2 separate regions of the Homo sapiens genome follow, and region 2 is linked to region 1. The links come from fine-mapping of genetic effects on gene expression. A gene starts in region 1. The other region holds a variant in brackets. All regions are shown on one strand. Distances are between the middles of the regions.

What was found. PIP is the estimated chance that this variant, and not a neighbour inherited with it, causes the effect. A credible set is the group of variants that fine-mapping cannot tell apart.
Region 2: its variant is the best candidate, but not a certain one, in a credible set for the expression of SKI in whole blood (TOPMed, PIP 0.52).

What each region holds. Positions count from the first base shown.
Region 1 is chr1:2,223,927-2,233,953 of GRCh38, forward strand. It overlaps SKI (SKI proto-oncogene), which reads left to right and starts at 4,393. Exons shown (of 7, transcript NM_003036.4): 1 at 4,393-5,809. The coding sequence starts at 4,841. RefSeq lists enhancers at 459-959, 2,314-3,134, 6,964-7,625, 7,272-7,321 and a silencer at 3,454-4,223.
Region 2 is chr1:2,250,388-2,260,414 of GRCh38, forward strand. All of the region lies in intron 1 of SKI (SKI proto-oncogene), which reads left to right. Among named protein-coding and RNA genes, the nearest start is that of SKI, 27 kb to the left of the region's middle. RefSeq lists enhancers at 5,163-6,362, 5,403-5,697, 6,365-6,962, 8,872-8,921. The variant T/G (reference allele first, on the strand shown) is at 5,259.

The DNA of each region.
Region 1 (10,027 bases):
GCTGGGCATGGTGGCAGGCGCCTGTAATCCCAGTTACTCGGGAGGCTGAGGCAGGAGAATCGCTTGAACCTGGGAGATGGACGTTGCAGTGAGCTGAGATCGCACCATTGCACTCCAACCTGGGCAACAAGAGCGAAACTTCATCTCAAACAAAAACAAAAACAAAACAAAATTATACGAAGCTGATGTTACTTGAGCAATTTTTATTTTCACATTTGAAGGTTTCTTTCCCAGTAACTGAGCATGTTTTTGCCAATGGCAGTCTATGCCTGGCTGCTACAAGGCCTTCCTTCTGCTTCCTGAGGAGGAGAGAGTGGGTGGCAGCAGGGCAGGGCAAGGCAGGGTGGAGCAGAGCTGGTCTGCGATGCATTTCCCCACCAAGGTTTCCAAGTTCCCCCAAAGCTTGGGGTACCCCTTGCTTTGCCAGTGTCTTCCTCTTTCTGGTCCTGGGGCGCCATCCAACTCATCTCCACACTGCTGGCTCCTTAAGGTGGGGGTCTCAACTCCAAGGCCAGCCTCCCAGGAGGCCCTCCCTGCCTACAGCCAGCCCCAGCCACTCCGCGCCTTTTGGGGATCTGAAAGATCTCGCTCCCGTACTAGCAGGTTTGTTGATTGACTGTTGTCTCTCACACCAGAATGGAACCACACGGGGTACAACCTGGTCTCCTTACCCTGATCCCAGTGTCTACAGTGGTAGGAGCTCATCGAACAAGGGGACAAACTCATGACTAGCTGACCAAGCCTGTCACCGTGGTAGGGGCCAGGGAGAAAGCTGGGAGGTCCCTGCCTTTGCCCGCATGCCAGGGCTTCTCTGGGCAGGCACCACGTCCATCCCACCCTACTCCGCGCTGTGGCTGTGCCTGCAGCCTTAACCCGCGGCCTGCCAGTATGGTGGCCCGCGTGGGCGACTGGCCTGGGCAGCTGCTGGGCGGGGCTGGAGGGTGGAAGGCCAGCAGGCGGGAGACACCCCCCACCCTCTTCCCTGCCAAGCTCAGGAAGAAAAGTGGACCCTGGTGGCTCCCTCTAGGCGTGGCTGCTCTGACCCTTGGTGGGGTGGGTGCCTTCCTCTGGAAGCTCTGACATATTGGGGGAAGGAAGTCTCAAGAGTCCACAAAGGTGGAGGTAGCTTCAGAGACCAACTGGAGGCCCTCACCTGTCCCCGCACCTTCACTCCATGGCACACCTATGGCTACTTCCCAGGGGTCCGCACTCTGGACAAAGTGTTGGTCCCTGGCTAGGACCCTGCAAAGCCAGAGGCACAGAAGGAAGCAGAGGCTCTGGGTGGGCACTGCCCATGCTAGGGGCCCTGCACAGAGCCCCTGGTCCACCAGAGGAGCCAGAGGAATTCTCTGCTTGATTGGAGACACTTCCCAGCAGGCCTGGCTGCAACCACCTTCTCTGAGTTACAATTTGACTGAGTTGTATGGAATTCAAATCCAGATGGAAGGAAGTGACAACGTCAAGTGCAACACTAGCTGTGTTTTGTCCAAAACGTGGGCCAACGAAACTATCTCCAGGAAAACAAATAAGTCCCTTTTCTATTTTTTTTTTTTTTTTTTTTGAGACAGAGTCTCACTCCATCGCCCAGGCTGGAGTGCAGTGGTGCAGTCTCAGCTCACTGCAATCTCCACCTGCCAGGTTCAAGCGATTCTCCTGCCTCAGCCTCCCGAGTAGCTGGGATTACAGGCATGTGCCACCATGCCCGGCTGATTTTTGTATATTTAGTAGAGAGGGGGTTTCACCATGTTGGCCAGGCTGGTCTCCAACTCCTGATCTCAAATAATCCACCCGCCTCAGCCTCTCAAAGTGGTGGGATTACAGGCGTGAGCCCCTGCGTCTGGACTGAATATCCTTTTTTTTTTTTTAGACGGAGTCTCGCTCTGTCGCCCAGGCTGGGGTGCAGTGGCGCAGTCTCGGCTCACTGCAAGCTCCGCCTCCCAGGTTCACGCCATTCTCCTGCCTCAGCCTCCTGAGTAGCTGGGACTACAGGCGCCCACCACCACGCCCAGCTAATTTTTTGCATTTTTAGTGGAGACGGGGTTTCACCGTTAGCCAGGATGGTCTCGATCTCCTGACCTCGTGATCCGCCTGCCTCGGCCTCCCAAAGTGCTGGGATTACAGGCATGAGCCACTGAGGCTGACCCTTTTTTTTTTTTTGAGACAGGGTCTGTCTCAAAAAAAGGGTGTGTCCCTATCACCCAGGATGGAGTGCAGAGGCTCAAGCACGGCTCCCCGCAGCCCCAACCTTCTGGGCTCAAGCAATCTTCCCACCTCAGCTTCTCAAGTAGCTGAGACCACAGGTGCAGGCCACCATGCCCGGCTAATTAAAAAAAAAAATTATTTTTTGTAGACAGGGTCTCACTATATCGCCCAGGCTAGTCTTGAACTCCTGGGCTCAAGCGATGCGCCTGCCTTATCTTCCCAAAGTGCTGGGATTACAGGCGTGAGCCACCTTGCCGGGTTAAATATCACTTTTAAGGAAATGATCTTCTTACCCAGCTTTCTGGTGTGTGAACACACAGAGAAAGCCTGGCCTCCAATTGTGGGGGCCAACGGAGTGAATGGGAAGAGTCGGGGGACAGTGTGGAGTGTGAGGACAAGGAGACAACCCCCAAGGCAGCGGAGAGAGGGAGTATGGAGCCGCCCTGGGGTCACCTACAGGTAGGTCCTGGCTGCCTCTCTAGACACCTGCCCTGCCGCAGGTCCGGCCAAGACCTGCACAGGGACTCCGGGCCGGCTCCCCCAGGATAGGAACTGCGCCCAGGAGTGCTGGTTTGAGGCAGGTTCCAGCCTCCACTGGGGAAGTGAGGGGCAGGAGGTCCCAGCTGAAGGTCACTCAGGTTGCAGCGGCGTGGCCCTCTCGCCTCCGCCCAGCACCCAGGCCAGCTTGGGCACCCCCGGCCCGTGGGGCATGTCCCTCCGCCTCAGGCGAGCACAGACCGAGCCCTGCCCCTCCCCAAACACACCATTGCGTCCCTGCGCCCGCAGGCCTCGCTGGAAGCTGCCTCCCCTGGAGACCACCCGGCCGACTGTCCAACTTCGGGGCCCCGGGCTTCCCGCTCCCCGCCCTGCCAAGGCTTGAGTCTCTCCCACTGCGTGGCCAGGCGTGGAGGGCCGGCCGATCCGACCCCGAAAGACGTCTCAGCGCTCCACGGCCCCGGGGCGGAGGTCAGGGGTCTCGCCGGCCCGAACGCCGGGCCCCGCGGGGCCGAAGTCCTGATAAGCCACCTGGCAGGAGTGGCTGGCAGACCGGCTGCGTCTGGGGCACCGGGCGCCGCCCCTCCCAGGCCCGAAGCCCCCGGCCCGCGCAGCAGGGACACTCCGCCAGGGGCCGGCGGGCGGGGCGGGGCCGGCGCGGCCGGGAGCCGCGGACACTCGGCCACCGAGCCACCGGCCACGGCGCAGCGGGGGCCGCCGGGCTGCGCCGCCAGGGTCACGCGACGCGGTGCCCGTCTCGGCGCAGGGTCCCTGGGCGTGGCCGCTGTCCCCCTCGTGTGTGGGACCCCAGGTCACCGTGTGGCGTCCCGGTAGTGTGTGGGACCCCAGAGGCGTCCGGGGCCTCCCCGCTGTGTGGTGTCCCACCCTGGGAGAACCCCGGGTGCGTGGCGTGGCCCCCCGGCCGCCCCCAGCTGGTTTGCGGTCGTGGCGGGGGCCTGTGGGTTTCTGGGCCCCGACGGCGGCGAGACGGGCGCCTTCCCAGCGGCGCAGGAAGCGGCCTCGGCCGGAAGGGGGGCCCCGGGCGCCACCGCCGCCTCCGCCTCCGCCCGCGCCCAGCGGCCCTCGGCGGGCGGGGCCGAGCGGGGCCGAGCGGAGTCGAGCATGGCCGAGCGTAGCCGAGTCCCGGCCGAGCGGAGCCGAGTCATGGCAGGGCGGGTCCGAGCGTGGCCGAGTCCCGGGCGAGCGGAGCCGAGCGCGGCCGAGTCCGGGCGGGGAGCGCGCGTTCCTGGAAGAGCCCGGCTGGGGAGCGGGTCACATTCTTGGCCAGCGCTAGGGCTGAGGCGGACGCACGGCAACAAACAGCGCGGGGGGCGGGGCCGGCGCGGGGCGGAGCGGGCGGCGCGGGGCGGGGCGGCGCGGCGGCGGCGTGAGCTCAGCGCCGGGCGCTCAGTCCGAGCCGGAGCGAGCCGCCGGGAGGATGTGCGCCGAGCGCCCCGAGCCCCGCGCCGCCGCCGCGCTCTGAGGGCCGCGGGCGAGAGGCGCCTCCGCCGCCCCGGAAGCCGGGCGGGCGGGCCGCGGAGCCGGCGGGCGGGCGGGCCGGGGGCCGGCGGCGGGCGCGACGCGGCCGGCCAGCGCCGCCGGGACGAGCCGGGCGGGCGCCTCGCGGTGGGAGGAGCGGGGCGGCGGCGGCGCGCCGCGCGAGGACGGCCCGGCGGGCCCCGCGCCCGCGCCCCCGCTCCTCCCGGGCCCCTCGGCCTCGGCCGCCGCGGCGATTCGCGCCTCGCGGCGCCGGCACCTGCCCGCGCGCCCCCCGCGAGCCCCGGGCCCGCGAGCGTTGGCGTTGGCGTTGGCGGCGCGCGCCGGGGCATGCCCCGCGCCTAGAGCCCGGGGGGCGCGCGGGGGACGCGCGGGGGGCCCGGGCGGCGGCGGGCGCGGCGCGGGGCGCGTGGATGTGGCGCCGGGCCCGGGCGGCGGCGGGCTCCAGCGGCGGGACCCCTTCGCCCCGCCCGCCTTCCCCTTCGCGCCCCCGGGCGAGGCCGCGGCCGTGATCGGCCGTGAGCCGGCGGCGGGGGGCGGCCGGGGTCGGGGCCGCGGGCGCCGCCGGGGCGCGCGGGGCGGCGGCGGGGGCCGGGGGGGCCCGGGCGCGCGGGAGCGGGAGCGGCCGGGGGAGCCGGAGCGCACCATGGAGGCGGCGGCAGGCGGCCGCGGCTGTTTCCAGCCGCACCCGGGGCTGCAGAAGACGCTGGAGCAGTTCCACCTGAGCTCCATGAGCTCGCTGGGCGGCCCGGCCGCTTTCTCGGCGCGCTGGGCGCAGGAGGCCTACAAGAAGGAGAGCGCCAAGGAGGCGGGCGCGGCCGCGGTGCCGGCGCCGGTGCCCGCAGCCACCGAGCCGCCGCCCGTGCTGCACCTGCCCGCCATCCAGCCGCCGCCGCCCGTGCTGCCCGGGCCCTTCTTCATGCCGTCCGACCGCTCCACCGAGCGCTGCGAGACCGTACTGGAAGGCGAGACCATCTCGTGCTTCGTGGTGGGAGGCGAGAAGCGCCTGTGTCTGCCGCAGATTCTCAACTCGGTGCTGCGCGACTTCTCGCTGCAGCAGATCAACGCGGTGTGCGACGAGCTCCACATCTACTGCTCGCGCTGCACGGCCGACCAGCTGGAGATCCTCAAAGTCATGGGCATCCTGCCCTTCTCGGCGCCCTCGTGCGGGCTCATCACCAAGACGGACGCCGAGCGCCTGTGCAACGCGCTGCTCTACGGCGGCGCCTACCCGCCGCCCTGCAAGAAGGAGCTGGCCGCCAGCCTGGCGCTGGGCCTGGAGCTCAGCGAGCGCAGCGTCCGCGTGTACCACGAGTGCTTCGGCAAGTGTAAGGGGCTGCTGGTGCCCGAGCTCTACAGCAGCCCGAGCGCCGCCTGCATCCAGTGCCTGGACTGCCGCCTCATGTACCCGCCGCACAAGTTCGTGGTGCACTCGCACAAGGCCCTGGAGAACCGGACCTGCCACTGGGGCTTCGACTCGGCCAACTGGCGGGCCTACATCCTGCTGAGCCAGGATTACACGGGCAAGGAGGAGCAGGCGCGCCTCGGCCGCTGCCTGGACGACGTGAAGGAGAAATTCGACTATGGCAACAAGTACAAGCGGCGGGTGCCCCGGGTGAGTGGCCCCAGGCCTGGGAGCTGGGGAGGATGCGCTTGGGGTGGGGGCCCCTTCTGGACTACAGGCTCTGGTCTCCGAAGGCTGGGACCTGTGCTTCTGCCGTGCCCCATGTCTCCAGTCTTCGCTTTGTTTTAGGGAAATTCAGAGTGTTCCGACTGGCAGGGCCAGAGAGTTTGGTAGGAAGGCCCTCCTGCCCGTTCCCCAGGACGAGCCTGGAGTGCGGGCTGTGGCGGTGGGGTGGGGGGCCAGGCCTGGTGTGTGGGGAAGGCCCGCAGGCCCACAGGCATTGCCCAGATAGGAAGGCACAGGCCTCATGCTCCCGAGAAAGCGGCCTGCCCCAGGTCAGGGAAGTTAGGTCCAGCTGGGCCACGGCCCGGATGCCTCAGGCCCAGGTCTTTCTTGGGGTTGGGGTGAAGGTGGCTGTCCTCGCCCCGAAGGCACCCAGCCTCGAAGACGGAGGGCTGCCTGCCTTTGGGCCCCAGGAGACAGAGCTTGGGTGAGGCGAGGCCTGGTTTTGTTACTGGCTCCCGCTCCCTGTTTGGTGCCTTGAAGTTTTGGGACACAGACACAAAATGAAGCCAGGTGTCCAGGCTTCAGTGGCAGGGGCCCGAGACTTGGCGGCTCCAGCACTGTGCTGGTTGGTCTCCCTGGGCCTGCCAGGGACCAAATCCCAGAGTCCGCCGTGTGGGGTGAGGGCCATTTGGCACCCGGCTGAGGGGCCTGGTCAGCAGGCTCCTGGGCCCGCGTGCTGGAGTTACTGGCGGCCTGCGATTTGCTTTGGACTCACCCATTTCCTTCTCTCCCTCTGAAACGCAGAGGGGTGCGCCGGAGAGGGAGGCTGCTGGCCTGGCTTTGTTGTTTGCCAGTTGGAGGATCTATGGGATCCGGCATGGGCAGCTCCCAGGCCACGAGGTGCCGAAATTACTCAGTGGGGTCCTCAGGAACTTTCCGTTGCGTACCTCCCCAAGTATTTGTAACTTTTCTTTTAAATATCCAGGCTTATTAAATTGCACACACAGAATGCTGCATTGGCTCAGCTATTCTTGGGAGGCCTAATTAATTCAGCTATTGCATCAAACTTTTTTTTTCTAAATCTGTGAATAGATGCTCCAGCCCGGTTTTCTCTGGGCGCCCCTCCAGCAGAGTGTCAGATCGTGGGGAGGAGGGGCTGTGGATGGAAGCGAGGGACTGTCGCCTCTGCTCGGAGGGGGCTGCGGAGGGTGCATGTGTGTGTGCATGTGTGTGTTTGTGTGTGCGCGCTTCTGACCCTGCCAGGCCAGGGCTCAGGTGGCAGCCGCCTGCAGACCTGTGGGCTGGGGAAGGATGCTCGTGGCAGAGCTGCAGACAGACGTAGCAGGCTGGGGCCCTTCGTGTCACACGGGGAGTTGGTTGGGGTGGGCCCGATGGCGCTCCCTGTGGGCTGGGGCCTTTCTTTTTGGGGTGGCCGCACCCTCGTCAGTGCCTGTGGCTGGAGGAAGCCACATGTCGGGGGGGATTGTGGGCTCGTGCAGGCTGCGTAGTGGGTCACCTGTGGCCAAGGCCTGAGCTGCTGGGACACGCTCACGTCACTGTCTTCAGAGCTGATGGCAGAGGATCTCGGTTGAGCAGGGTGTGTCTGCGTTTGTTTTTGTCCGACTGTGGGTCATGTGTGTGCTTGTGGTCTTTCTGTCTTCCTGGGCTTTGCTGGGGGCCCATTGGAGTGGCCAGTGGGGCCTCGTTGTCACAGCTGACACAGAGCAGGGCCCAGGCCACCCGGCTTCTCTCTCCCTGTGGTTGTGAGCGCCGGGGTCCTTGGGCCGCCATAGAGACAGGCCAGACAGGCTCTGGTCATCTCAGCGGATGCCTCCGAGCCGCCTTTCCCTTTTGAAGTCCCCAGCACTGCTCTGAAATTTCATTTACCGATTAAAAAGCAATTCCCAGGCCATACTGACGACGTGCACGGTGTGAGTGACTGCGTCCTCTAGGCCTGAGTGGCAGCCACACAGCCTGGCCCTGGCAGTGGTGTCCTCCGCCTGGCTCCCTGAATGTTCACCAGCTCCTGCGGGTTTTCCTCTCCTCATGCTCCTGGGGGTGGGGCACCCATCCTGCCCGTGTTGCCTCCTGCTCTATGTTCTTGACGTGGGATGGCGGCCAGGGACTCTGCCCTCGCTCAGTGCCTGCCCTTTAGGCTCTGTGACTGTGCACTTGGGAGTTCTGGGCTTCAGGGTCCCCTTAAGTCTCCTCAGGACAGCCGTGTGCGTGTCTCTGTGTGCACAGGAGCGACACATGAGAAGGGAGTGTGGTCTCAGGGTGGGCGTGGACCCACAGTGCCCAGACCCTACTTGTCCTAGAAGGAGTGGCCTGGGAGGCCCCGCCTCCGCCCTCACTGGCCGCCGTTGGCTCCTCCCACTCGTGTCTTGACAGCTTATTCTCGGGATATGTTTTGATTTCTTCACTTCCTTTGTAGCTTATTTTAATATTTTTGATCTGCCGAAGATGAGGGCAGAACAAAGAATGTACTGGAACTCTCTTTGCAGGGCTGCTGCTCCCAGCAGGCCTTCGGGCTCTGCGGAGCCGGAGGGGGCTGAATTGCCTTCCGGGTGTTTGTGGCCAGGCCAGGGTCGGGTCTCCTGCCTGAGTGGGCTGGGTCAGCGCCACTCTCCTACCCATGGTGGGAGGTGGGAGAGGGCGGAGATGTTCCCGGGTCCCAAACCAAGTGGGAGGCAGGGCTGCAGCTTTCTCCTTGGAAGCCTCCTGTGACAGCGGCTGTGCCTGAGCCTCTGGCCTGTCGGCAGTGCAGTGGCAGCATGAGGGGCAGACAGTCTTCCTCCAGATGCCCCCTCATGTCACGGGGTTACAGAGGAAGCCTCCGCTTCTGTCCAGTGGCTGTCGGGCCCGGCCAGCTTCCTGCTGCTGTATCTTGGAAGACCATGTGGGCTGCATGGGTGCTTGGCGAGTCTCCTCTTAGGGACCCTGGGGCTGCTATCCTTGACAGGGGACCTTGTCTCACCTCCCCACTCGGTCCCACACTGGCTTTGTGACCTTGGACGAGTTGCTTAACCTCTCTGCCTCAGTGTAAACTGGGGACTACTGTTTATTGATCTTGGACTTTATGTTTTGAGTGGTACAGGTGGGGCACAGATGGGTCATTGTGCTGCTGGGAGCACTTAGCCAAGACTGGAGCCTCTGAGCCTTCCCCACTCCCACCCCTCTTTCTTCTTTCCGGTCGGCTCGCCTCCTTCCTCGGGTTCTCTGATAGCTGTAGGACTCCATTGGACTACATTTTTTTGTCAGTATAGACAGCTGTCAGAGACGGAGACAAAATGTGGCAGTTGGAGCTGCCGCTTGGCCTGCTGCCTGGGACGCGGCCCCTTGTCCCGCAGAACGTCAGCCAAGCGCTTTCCGTGCAGGCTGATAACAGGGTGGTGCCGTGCTTCCCTTGGGCCGTGGCAGGATCCTGCTCCAAGGGGGGGTCCTGCTCCGAGGGGGCCGGGGTTTCTGTTCCAACAGGGCTGGTGGGGGGGGTCCTGTTCCCAGAGGTCCGGGATCCTGTTCTGAGGGGGCCAGGGTCCTGTTCTGGGCCGGGGGTCCTGCTCCGAGGGGGCCGGGCGTCCTGTTCCTAGGGGCGGTGGGCTGCCTGTGTGAGAGCTGTTCTTCACCTGCCACGTGCAGTCTGGGCATTCTGGTGACTGGAGAATTTGGGTTGTGTTACAGTGTTGTTGCTCTGTCCTGCAGATGCCTGAATTCCCAGGGGTCTTGCAGGTCCCCTTGCCCTTGCGCTGTGTGGGCTGGCGTGGGTCTCAGTGGGCTGTGGGTTGAGGGTCGCTTGGTTGGGAAGCTCTGCGCGCTTCCCAGTGGAGGGTCCGCGACGGGGGTTTTCTGATCCCTCATGCTGGCTTTTGACCCGTGTCACTGCAAGGCTGCCCCTGGCCCCAGGCAGCGTTTCTTCAGGCAGGTGCCCAGCCAGGTGGTCGGGCTTGAGACCTTTGAGTCTCGAGGTCTGTTCTGGGGAATGACTGAGCTTGTGGAGGCCAGGAAGGGGTTGCTGGGCTTGGAGAGCCTCTGGGGAGGAGTTGTGTTTTGCTCTTTGCTGTTTTAAGCTGAAATGATCACAGGAAGGGACAGCATCAAGAGTTTCTTTCTGGGACACCCCTCACTCAGCTCAGCGGCCGTGTGTGGGTTTGGGGCTGTGCTCTCCCAGACACCCTCAGGTCCGGGGAGCACTTCGGGGGCTAT
Region 2 (10,027 bases), 26 kb after region 1:
GCCACTGTCCATGGCTGATGGAGGAGCAGGAAGTGGCCCATTTGCAAGCCTGCTGCCTGTCCTTGGTTTGGGTCTTTTTATTTTGAGAAATCTCCAAACCTACATACAGCGAAGTTGCAGGAAGAACGTGGTGAGTCCCCATTCCCTGAGCTCAGCTGCTGCTGGCACTGGCCTCCTCTCGCCACGACTGTTTTTGCAACTTTTTGCCGGTCATTTGAGAGAATGTTTCAGTCAGTGGGGTCCTCCCTGCTAAGCCCTTCATTCTGAATTTCTAAAAGTAAGGGGATGTGGTGTGTGACCGTGACACGGTGACCAAGTCTGGGAAGCTGGCTCCCCTGGCCACGCTCTGCCGTGTCTGCCACGCCCTCTTCAGTAGTTTACTTCTGCCTGGGACCTGCCTGGCGGCTCAGCTGACTCTTCTCTTGGGCCTGCCTCGTTGCCCTAGGCAGCTGGCTGCGCGTTGGCAGGGCCCGGACGGGCAGGTGGGTAGCGGCAGCCCCGGGGGGCCGGTGCCCTATCAGAGGCGTGGGAGGCATCAGGAGCAAGCGGCCCCCATGCTTTTCTCAGGGGAGCCTCTCCCTTGGTAATTAATGAGTAATCCGCCGAGGGGAACTTTGGACCCCAAAAGTCCCCTGTCCCCATGGACTTTATCCGGGTGGGCCAGGATCCCTGGTGAGTCTGCTTGTCTTAGGGATGGGGACGTGGGGCACTGACCGCACTCTTGGCCACTGCTGCTGCTGGAGTCTCGCCTTTCTCCTCCCGCCTGCCTTCTTGCCGTGTAGTAGCGCTGCGGACCGTGTTCGGAAAGAGTCACTTACTGTCCGTTCTAGTCACAGTTTTGATGCCCAAGTTGACCTTCTGTTGGCTGCCCACAGGTCTGGGTATCTGCTGATGTTCTTTTATTTATTTATTTTTTGTAGAGATGGGGTCTCACTCTGTGGCCCAGGCTGGTCGTGAATTCCTGGGCTTGAGCCATCCTCCCGCCTGGTGTCCCACAGTACTGGGATTACAGGTGTGAACCCCCGCTCCCTCCCCCTGCCCCAGCCCCTGCTGAGGTCTTATTTCAGAGCCGGCAGGGTTTTCCCAGCTCTCAAGCGCCCTCACGTCCCACCACAGTGACGTATGGTGTGTTCACTCCTGTCCTGGTCCCCAGGTCGTGTGGGGCCATCGAGGCTCATCCCCAGCTGCAGCCGCCCTCCTTTCCCTGTAGAGCCCTCGCCTGTGTAACGGTTACTGCCTCTGTGTGGGCAGCATCTGGGGGGGCTGGCGCCGGGCAGTGGGAGACCTGCTCCATGTCACTGGTGGAACCCAATGTATGTGATAGGTTCACAGGTCTCAGCTGTGAAATTGTGTTTGTACACGGTGGCTTTTTCTAGAAAAATGAACCGCAAAGTATTTCTTTCCTCGTGAATGTCGACCATTTTCTCGAGTCTGGTTGTTGTTGGCCAGTGACACAAACCTGCAGCTTCTCCCCTTCTTGCTTCCCTCCCCGCCCCTTGGCTCCGGGCACAGCGTGGCTGAACCGGCTTATCTGGCCTCGTCTCTGGAGGCCTCCCCAGCTGTCATGTCCGTTGACATTTCACTGTTCCTGGCAGTGGCTGTGCCCAGACGCGCCGTGGCACGTGGGAGTGATGCTGGTCTTTGCCAGTGCTCTGCACACCTGTGGGGAGGCCTCTCGGGGTTTCCTGCCAGGTCTCTGTGCACCCCCCGGTGAGAGATCTGAGGAGGAGGAGGAGGAACCGAGGGCAGGTAGGGCGCTCTTCAGATGTGGAGGGTTGGAATCTCCAGTTTAATAACAAACTTTATCCTACCTTAAGTTTTCAAAAGTCTTGTAAAGAACGGGTCCATTCATTTTTAGCTGCTCCGTGAAAGGTGAGAAAGCTGAGTAGGGGGCTGTGTCCCAAGACCAGGGTTTGCTGTGGCCTGGCTCGATTGAGAATCCCCTGGGCCCCAGGAGGGTGCTGTGGCTGCTGAGGAGGCTGCCCCACGTTCTGATCCTGGTGCAGGGCTGCACTCAGCCTCCCCAGAAGCAGCTTGGTCCCGGGTCCCACCTGGCACTAACCTCTGCAGGGCCCCTTTATGTCATGGTGTTTTGGCCTGTGGAAGGCTTTCGTCCGTCTGAGCTGCTGACTGAGGGTCTTTATTTCCACACTCGAGAGAAACCTGGCGGCCCAGCAGTCAGTGCCCGCGGAGCAGGTACAGCTCAGGGAAGGGAGCAGCCCCTTGCTCACGGTCCTTTCTGGCACAGTCTGTGGCCCTCTGGAGTACCCGGCCAGCGTCCTCACAGCTGTCCCCAAACGCGTGGTATGGGTTCCTCCCTCAGGGCCAGCACCAGGCTGGTGCTCAGCTCTTCTGGAAGAGCCGTCCCATGGTCCCAGCGCATCCGTGGAAGAGTGAAATATTGAACGTTACAAGAAGGAAGTGAGGCCAGGCGCGGTATCTCGTGCCTGTAATCCCAGCACTTTTGGAGTTGGCGATGGGCAGATCACTTGAGGTCAGGAGTTTGAGACCAGCCTGGATCAAAATGGCAAAACTCCATCTCTACTGAAAATACAAAAATTAGCCGGGCGTGGTTGCAGGTGCCTGTAATCCCAGCTACTTGGGAGGCTGAGGCATGAGAAGAGCTTGAATCCGGGAGGCAGAGGTTGCAGTGAGCCCAGGTCATGCCACTGTACTGCAGCCTGGGTGATGGAGTGAGACCCTGTCTGAAAAAAAAAAAAAAAATAGAGTTGCTAAATTGGAGTAAATATTTCATAACGCGATTCAGTTCAGTTGCTTTAGCTGCTCTGTGAGTCCAGCACCCGCCTGCAGCGCAGCCTCCCCTGTGGAGTCTGGAGCACCCAGGCCTACATCACAGGCTCCAGAGCACCCGGGCCGGTATCACGGGCTCCAGAGCACCCAGGTTGGTATCATGGGCTCCAGAGCACCCAGGCCGGTATCACGGGCTCCAGCACAGCGGGCAAAAGGTGGGAGGCTCCCCAGACTTTAGGTGTCTGGAGTTATCCATAAAGGGGGCTTCCTGAGTTTTGGTGTATCCCTTGGTTTACAACCCAGGGAGAAGCCTGGCCACTTGTGAGTGCAGGTCGTCCTTGGACACACACTTGGAGGAATCGGAAGGAACAGGACACGCAGCCTTATGTTCCTGTCAGCCCTTCCTGCACATATGCCCTGTCTCAGGGGGCTGCTGGCCTCTGCCAGGGCCTCCTCACTTTTGTTCCTGAGGACATCTTCCCAGCGCGTGTGCACTTACTAAATGAGCCACATGCCCCCAGTTCTGACAGCTAGGAACGGTGCGAGCAGATGGAGGATGGAGCTGGTGCTGCTGCCCACAGGGGCCCTGGGAGTGAGGCTGCGGGTCCCTCGTGCCCTGGTGCGGCCCTGGCTTGAGGCCTTGGTTTGGGGGTGTTGTGCCCCCCCTACCAGGGCTGAGAGCCCACAGTGACAGCAGAGGGGAGGTGTGTGCGGGGGCCGGGCATCGATGCTGGACTTGCTGAGGGTTGCTTTCTGGTGGTGTGCACACATCTTGGGCCAGAGTGGTGTCCCCAGAGTGCCTGCTGCTGGAAGAGAAGGCTCTGGGTCCTTCTGGATGCCCATCCTGGCTGTGTGGACCACGGCGGCAAGGGCCACGTGCCTGGTCGTCAGGCCACGGATGCTTGTCCGGAGCTGCCTCATGTGGCTCTTGCACAGAAGGCACCATTCTAGACATTCCAGGTGGGCTCCAGTGACCATGAGGGGCTGGGGTTGGCACTGGCGCTGCTCCTCTGAGGTGTTGGACCCACGTGGGAGCTGCTTGTTCCCCTCCAGACACTGATTGTGAAGAATCTGGAAGGTCCACGCTAGAGGAGGCCACGACCTGCTGGTGCGCCTGCAAGAGTGCTGGCCCAACTGGTCTCCATGCGTGGTGCCCGTTGGAGGGGGTGGGAGGGCTCGGCTCTGCTCTCCCCCCGTGGGTCTTCGTGTCACAGGGTGCTTGGGGGACTCTGCTGCACTGAGATCTCCAGCGTGACATGTCCCCGTCCCAAACAGCCCTGAAATGGCAATGCCTCATCCTAGGATTACCGTCCCTTCCCGAAGGCTTGAGGTCCTACTTAGATGTCTACTGGACTGCTTTTTATTTTAATTTACTTGATACTCAGTCTGGGTGCGTTGAAGACGCGGCCTCTGGCTGTCAGCCTGTCCTTGTGTGCAGTGACCGGTCTACCTGTCTGGCCTTGTGCCTAGACTTGTGGCCGTCACCACTATCTCTGGGGAGGGGTGAAGTGGACTGGGAGGTAGGAGCCGAATTGGAGTCTTCTCTTTGTTCCTGAAGTTATCACAGTCTTGGCCAGACTGTGGTCACTGCGTGCGTGTGTGTGTGTGTGTGATGCGCAGGGCATTTGCTGGTGGAATAGCACGGGCCATTGGCATTTGCACCTGAGGCGTGCAGCCCCCCTGCTGCACACCTATGGGGTCCCTGCGGTCAGGTGAGCTCTGGGGGGTTTCTGAGGGTGGAGACAGCCACAACAACACTTCTTTCCTCCAAATGCCTGTGCTGTGCACTTGGGTGCAGGTGGCTTTTAGGGGACATGGCTGGGCACTGCCCCACAGTGTCACCTCTGTGTCCTGTGGTGCGTGCTGTGGACTGGCACCACACCCCACGTGCTTGTTAGGCCAGTTTCTCTCAGGTGTCGGTCACCCTACCATGCGGCCTTTCTTTTGTCTTTTATCTTTAGCTAAGGAGTCCATGGCATACCAAAAGCTGAATGATGACAGCCAGTGTCCCCATCCTGTCCTCCCCAACTTTCCACAGGCAGGGACGCTCCCCATTCTTGCTGCATAGTCTTCTGTTGACCCCATGTACCTGAGTGACCCCCACGTACCTGAGTGTGACAAGCACTATGGTGCTTGACCTCAGTCCAGCTGCTTAGACCTGTACCTGCCACAGCCCCACGTGCTGACACCTTGCGTCTTGAGTTTTGATAAATCTATCCTTTGGCTGATTAATATGACTGAGTGGTGTCTTCTGACCCCATTTCTTATCTGGAACACTGTGTCCTGACTTCATTTCCTGTCTGGAGCACACTGTCCTGACCTCATTTCCTGTCTGGAACACACTGTGTCCTGACCTCATTTCCTGCCTGGAGCTCTCTGTGTCCTGACCTCATTTCCTGTCTGTGCCGCTCTGTCCTGACCTCATTTTCTGTCTGTGCCACCCTTTGTCCTGACCTCATTTCCTGTCTGGAACATGCTGTGTCCTAACTGCATTTCCTGTCTGGAGC[T/G]CTCTCTGTCCTGACCTCATTTCCTGTCTGGATCTCTCTATGTCCTGACCTCATTTCCTGTCTGGAACATGCTGTATCCTGATATCATTTCCTGTCTGTGCCACTTTGTCCGGACCTCATTTTCTGTCTGGAGCACTCTGTATCCTGACCTCATTTCCTGTTTGTGCCACCCTTTGTCCTGACCTCATTTCCTGTCTGGAACATGCTGTGTCCGGATTGCATTTCCTCTCTGGAGCTCTCTCTGTCCTGACCTCATTTCCTGTCTGGAGCCAGTGACCTCATTTCCTGTCTGTGTCACTCTGTCCTGACCTCATTTCCTGTCTGTGCCACTCTTTGTCCTGACCTCATTTCCTGTATGCAACACACTGTGCCCGGACTGCATTTCCTGTCTGGAGCTCTCTCTGTCCTGATCTCATTTCCTGTCAGGAGCACTCTGTGTACTGACCTCATTTCCTGTCTGTGCCACTCTTGTGTCCTGACCTCTTTTCCAGTCTGTGCCACTCTGTGTCCTGACCTCATTTCTTATCTGTGCCACTCTGTGTCCTGACCTCATTTCCTGTCTGGAGCACTCTGTCCTGACCTCATTTCCTGTCTTGTGTCCTGACCTCATTTCCTGTCTGGAGCTCTCTGTGTCCTTACCTCATTTCCTGTCTGTGCTGCTTTCTGTCTTGGAGTTGCGTGCCTGACCTCATTTCCTCTCCACTGTGTGTTCCTGGAGTTAGGCATCATCTTGGTTTTTACTCCCTTGCTTGGTTTTCTCAGGATCTCTGGCTGCTCCGTCCTTGCTCCAGCGTTCTTCTCTGCCCCCTCCCTCTGTGGTCCAGAGGCCGATGGCCAGCTGGCCCTCACCTGCCCGCCCTGGGTATTTCTGTGCTCTTCCTGGTGAGGGATTCTAGGGGTTCCCCTCCTGGGTTCATCCTTACCTGAGTAGCCACAGCACACTGTGCAGTTGGGTGCCTGGGAGGCACGTGCTTTGGGTGTTGCATGGCTGACCTGGTAACTGGGCACCCGTGTATGGAGGGCTGGAACAGAACACTTGTCGGCGCTCCTCAGCGTCTTGCCTCTGGTGTCCCCATGGCGAAGTCCCCTGCCATCTGCTTTGGGCTCTGACATGTGACCTGACTGTGCCCTTCAGGAGCTTTCAGAACCTCCTCTTAGATCTGGCATTCAAAATGTCTTGTCAGACACCTCGAGGCGGCTTGTGTTTGGCCCTGTGTTGGGCGCCTATTGGGCCCTTGTCAGGTTTTTGTTGCCAGGAGGCTCGCGCCCCGATCTTCGGGATGGTGCCCGTGGCATCTTCTGCTCGGTGCTCCCTAGGGCTGGACGTTGGTCCTCCTGGCACTGGTGCTCCGGTTGCTGTGGTCTCCCTGCTGTTCCCTTGTGGCTCAGGATTACTCTCTGGAGGTCTCCGCCTTATCATGAGCACTTTCTTTGTTGGCTACTTTTAGTTTCATGATTTCATTTTCGTTTCTAAGATATCTATCTCTTTGTAAAAGCTCCCACCTTTTGTGACTTGTGGATGCTGTATCTTTCTCCTGTTGCTGCAGACATTAATGATGTTTTTCTTGACAGTTTGTCCTGCTGGTTTCCTCTGCATTCCTTTGGTTGGTTTCAGACCTCGGCTTTAAAGGGGCATTTCCCCACATTGCCAATTCTTGACCATCTGGTCACGTCAAGGCTGACGTGCCAATGGCTGCAAGGGGGAGGGCACCTGGGAGCCCGCGGATGGCTCTTATGCAGACGTGCGGGCCAGCCCCGATCCTGCTTCTGCAAGGCCTCCCCTCCCATGGTGGCGCTTTGGTGCCAGAGCGCGTCGGCGTGGCTCCCTAGCGTCTGCCTCTGCAGCTGCTTGGCCCCCAGCCGCCTCCTCCCAGCTGCCTCCTGCCCTATGTGTGCTTGAGCTCGAGACAATGCTTCCTTCATCCAAGAGCCGGGCTCTCGGCGATTTTTGAGAGGAGAATGGGGTTGAAGCGATGTTGCTCTTCCGTCTTAAAACTGGATTTCTTTCCTCATGCTTTTGAATTATTATATCTTCTTGACATGTTTCTCTGGATTTGCAAAAGATTTTTATATTTTATATATTTATTTATTTACTTATTTATTTATTTTTGAGGTGGAACTTTGCTCTTGTTGCCCAGGCTGGAGTGCAATGGTGTGATCTGGGCTCACTGCAGCCTCCGCCTCCTGAGTTCAAGCAATTCTCCTACCTTAGCCTGCTGAGTAGCTGGGATTACAGGCATGTGCCACCATGCCTGGCTAATTTTGTAGTTTTAGTAGAGATGGGGTTTCTCCATGTTGGTTAGGTTGGTCTCGAACTCCCGACCTCAGGTGATCTGCCCGCCTCAGCCTCCCAAAGTGCTGGGATTACAGGCTTGATCCACTGTGCCCAGCCTGCACAACATTTTAAGTAAATGTTGACATTTTAAGCATTGAGCAAGGAAGAGTGTGAAGAGGTACTTTATAAAGGGAAATATGGCAATACTGATTATTTGCGACTTTAACCAGAAGTAATCTTTGGACAGCCAGATGTTATTGTCTTGGAATGTGGTGTTTTATCTAGTGACAATGTGTGTGCATGCACACGTGGACACACAGGATTCCTGGTCCTTAAACCCGTATGTTCGGTGTCTGCAGCATAGAATGGTCTCGGCTGGTATGTGTGGGACCAGCTCAGATGCCCCTATTCTAGATGCCGAGGCCGAATCGCCCCCTAGGGAGGATGGGACAGTGGCTGTGCTGAGCGTGCTACGGCGTCATGGAAGAACAGCAGAGGCGTTTGAGAATTGTGTTTTTTAAAAAGAGTTGAAACTTGTCAGTCAGGAAATGGAGTAACAGGTTTATCAGGAGTGTCATTTTCCTTTTTTTTTTTTTTTTCTCCCATGAGTGGCTTGGTCGGGGAACTCATGTTTTTTTTTGTTTTTGTTTTTGAGTCAGAGTCTAGGTCTGTCACCCAGGCTGGAGTGCTGTGATGTGGTCTTGGCTCACTGCAACCTCTGCCTCCCAGGTTCAAGGGATTCTCCTGCCTCAGCCTCCTGAGTAGCTGGGATTATAGGCGCCTGCCACCATGCCCGGCTAATTTTTTAATTTTTAGTAGAGACGGGGTTTGTTGGTCAGGCTGATCTTGAACTCCTGACCTTGTGAGCTACCCACCTTGGCCTCCCAAAGTGCTGGGATTACAGGCGTGAGCCACCGTGCCTGGCGGGAGCTCATGTTTTATCTGAGGTGGCCCAGGGCCCCACCTGGGAGCAGGGTCAGCAGTGCCTGGCCCTTGAGTGTTTGCCTCGGGGTGTGTTCCTTTTAAATCAGATCAGCTCATCACTTGGCCGGTTTTCTAGACCAGCATATTCAAACCCAAGGTTTGGAATCTTGGGCTGGCTTCTGAAATGACATGCTGTGGGCTCCATCCCCAGAATTCTGGGTTCCCAGGTCCGAGGTAGGGACTGAGAATGTGCATCTCTAGCAAGTTCCCAGATGACATGGTGGCTCCTCCGGAACCCCTGCCTCCTTTTGTGGGTAAAGTTTTACAGGTGCATGGCCACGCCCCACCGCCCTCGCCGGTGCTGTCTGTGGCTGTTTTGTGCCACAGCAGAAAGGCTGAGTAGGTGCGAGAGAGACCATGTGGCCTACAAACCCAAAATATGTGTGATTTGGTCCCTTACGGAAAACACTTGCAGGTTCCTGATCTAGAGAAAGAATAATTGTAACGCAGGGCTACATTGTTTTTGTGAAACTCTTTAGGATGGAAAAGGGCATCTCTGAGGTCAGCGACAGAAGCCGTGGTGGTTTCATGCCACCAGTTTACCTTTGTCCTGAGCTGTGGAGGTTGTTTAAAGCTATAGATCAAATGAAGCCTGGAATATAAGGGTGCAGTTAGGATGATTGCTGTGTAGTTATTTTTTAAAACGGCTTTTTGAGGCATAATTAACATAAGCTGCGTATATTTAAAGATACAGTTAGATAACTTTTGATGTATGCAAACACATATAAAACATGTATAAAACCCTCGCTGCCGTCCAGATGATGAACCTGTCCGTCACCCAGAAGCTCTCTCCTACCCACACCCCTTTCTCCCCAGGCTGCAGCAGTCTGCTTTTGGGCCTGTAGATTCGTTGCCTTCCTTAGAGCTTTGTCTAAATGAAATCCTACAATATGTTCTTCTTTTGGTCTGGCTTCCTTCCCTCAGCGTCATTATTTTGGGCTCCTTGGATGCGTGGCGTGTGCTGGGCAGTGTTCCCCTGCGTGGATGTCGCGTTTGTTCCTCCATTTGCCCGTTGGAGCGTGTGGAGTGTTTCCAGTTCTTGACTGTCACAAAGAAAGCGGCTGTGAACATTCGGGTACAAGTTGTTGTCGGGATACACGGTTTTATTTCCCTGGATAGATACCTAGGTGTGGAATGGCTGGATCATATATTTGTGCTTATGTTTAACTTTTAGAAACTGCCAGACTATCTTCCAAGGTGGCTGCACCATTCCTCGTCCTACCAGCAGTGAGTGAGAGTTCCTGCTGCTCCACGTCCTGGCCAGCGTGTGTGGTGGGCGGGCTTAGGCGTTCAGCCGTCCTGATGGGTGTGCGGCGGCATCTCCTTGAGGTTTAAGTTGCGCTTCCCCAATCGTTGAGAACGTAGAGTGGCTTCTCTTGTGCGTATTTGCCACCATATGTCTTCTTTGGTGAAATGTCCCTTCTGATTTTTGCCAGTTATTTTAGACTGGGTTTGTTGTTTTACTGTTGACTCGTGAGATCTTTACGTATTCTGGATGCAAGTCCCTTTT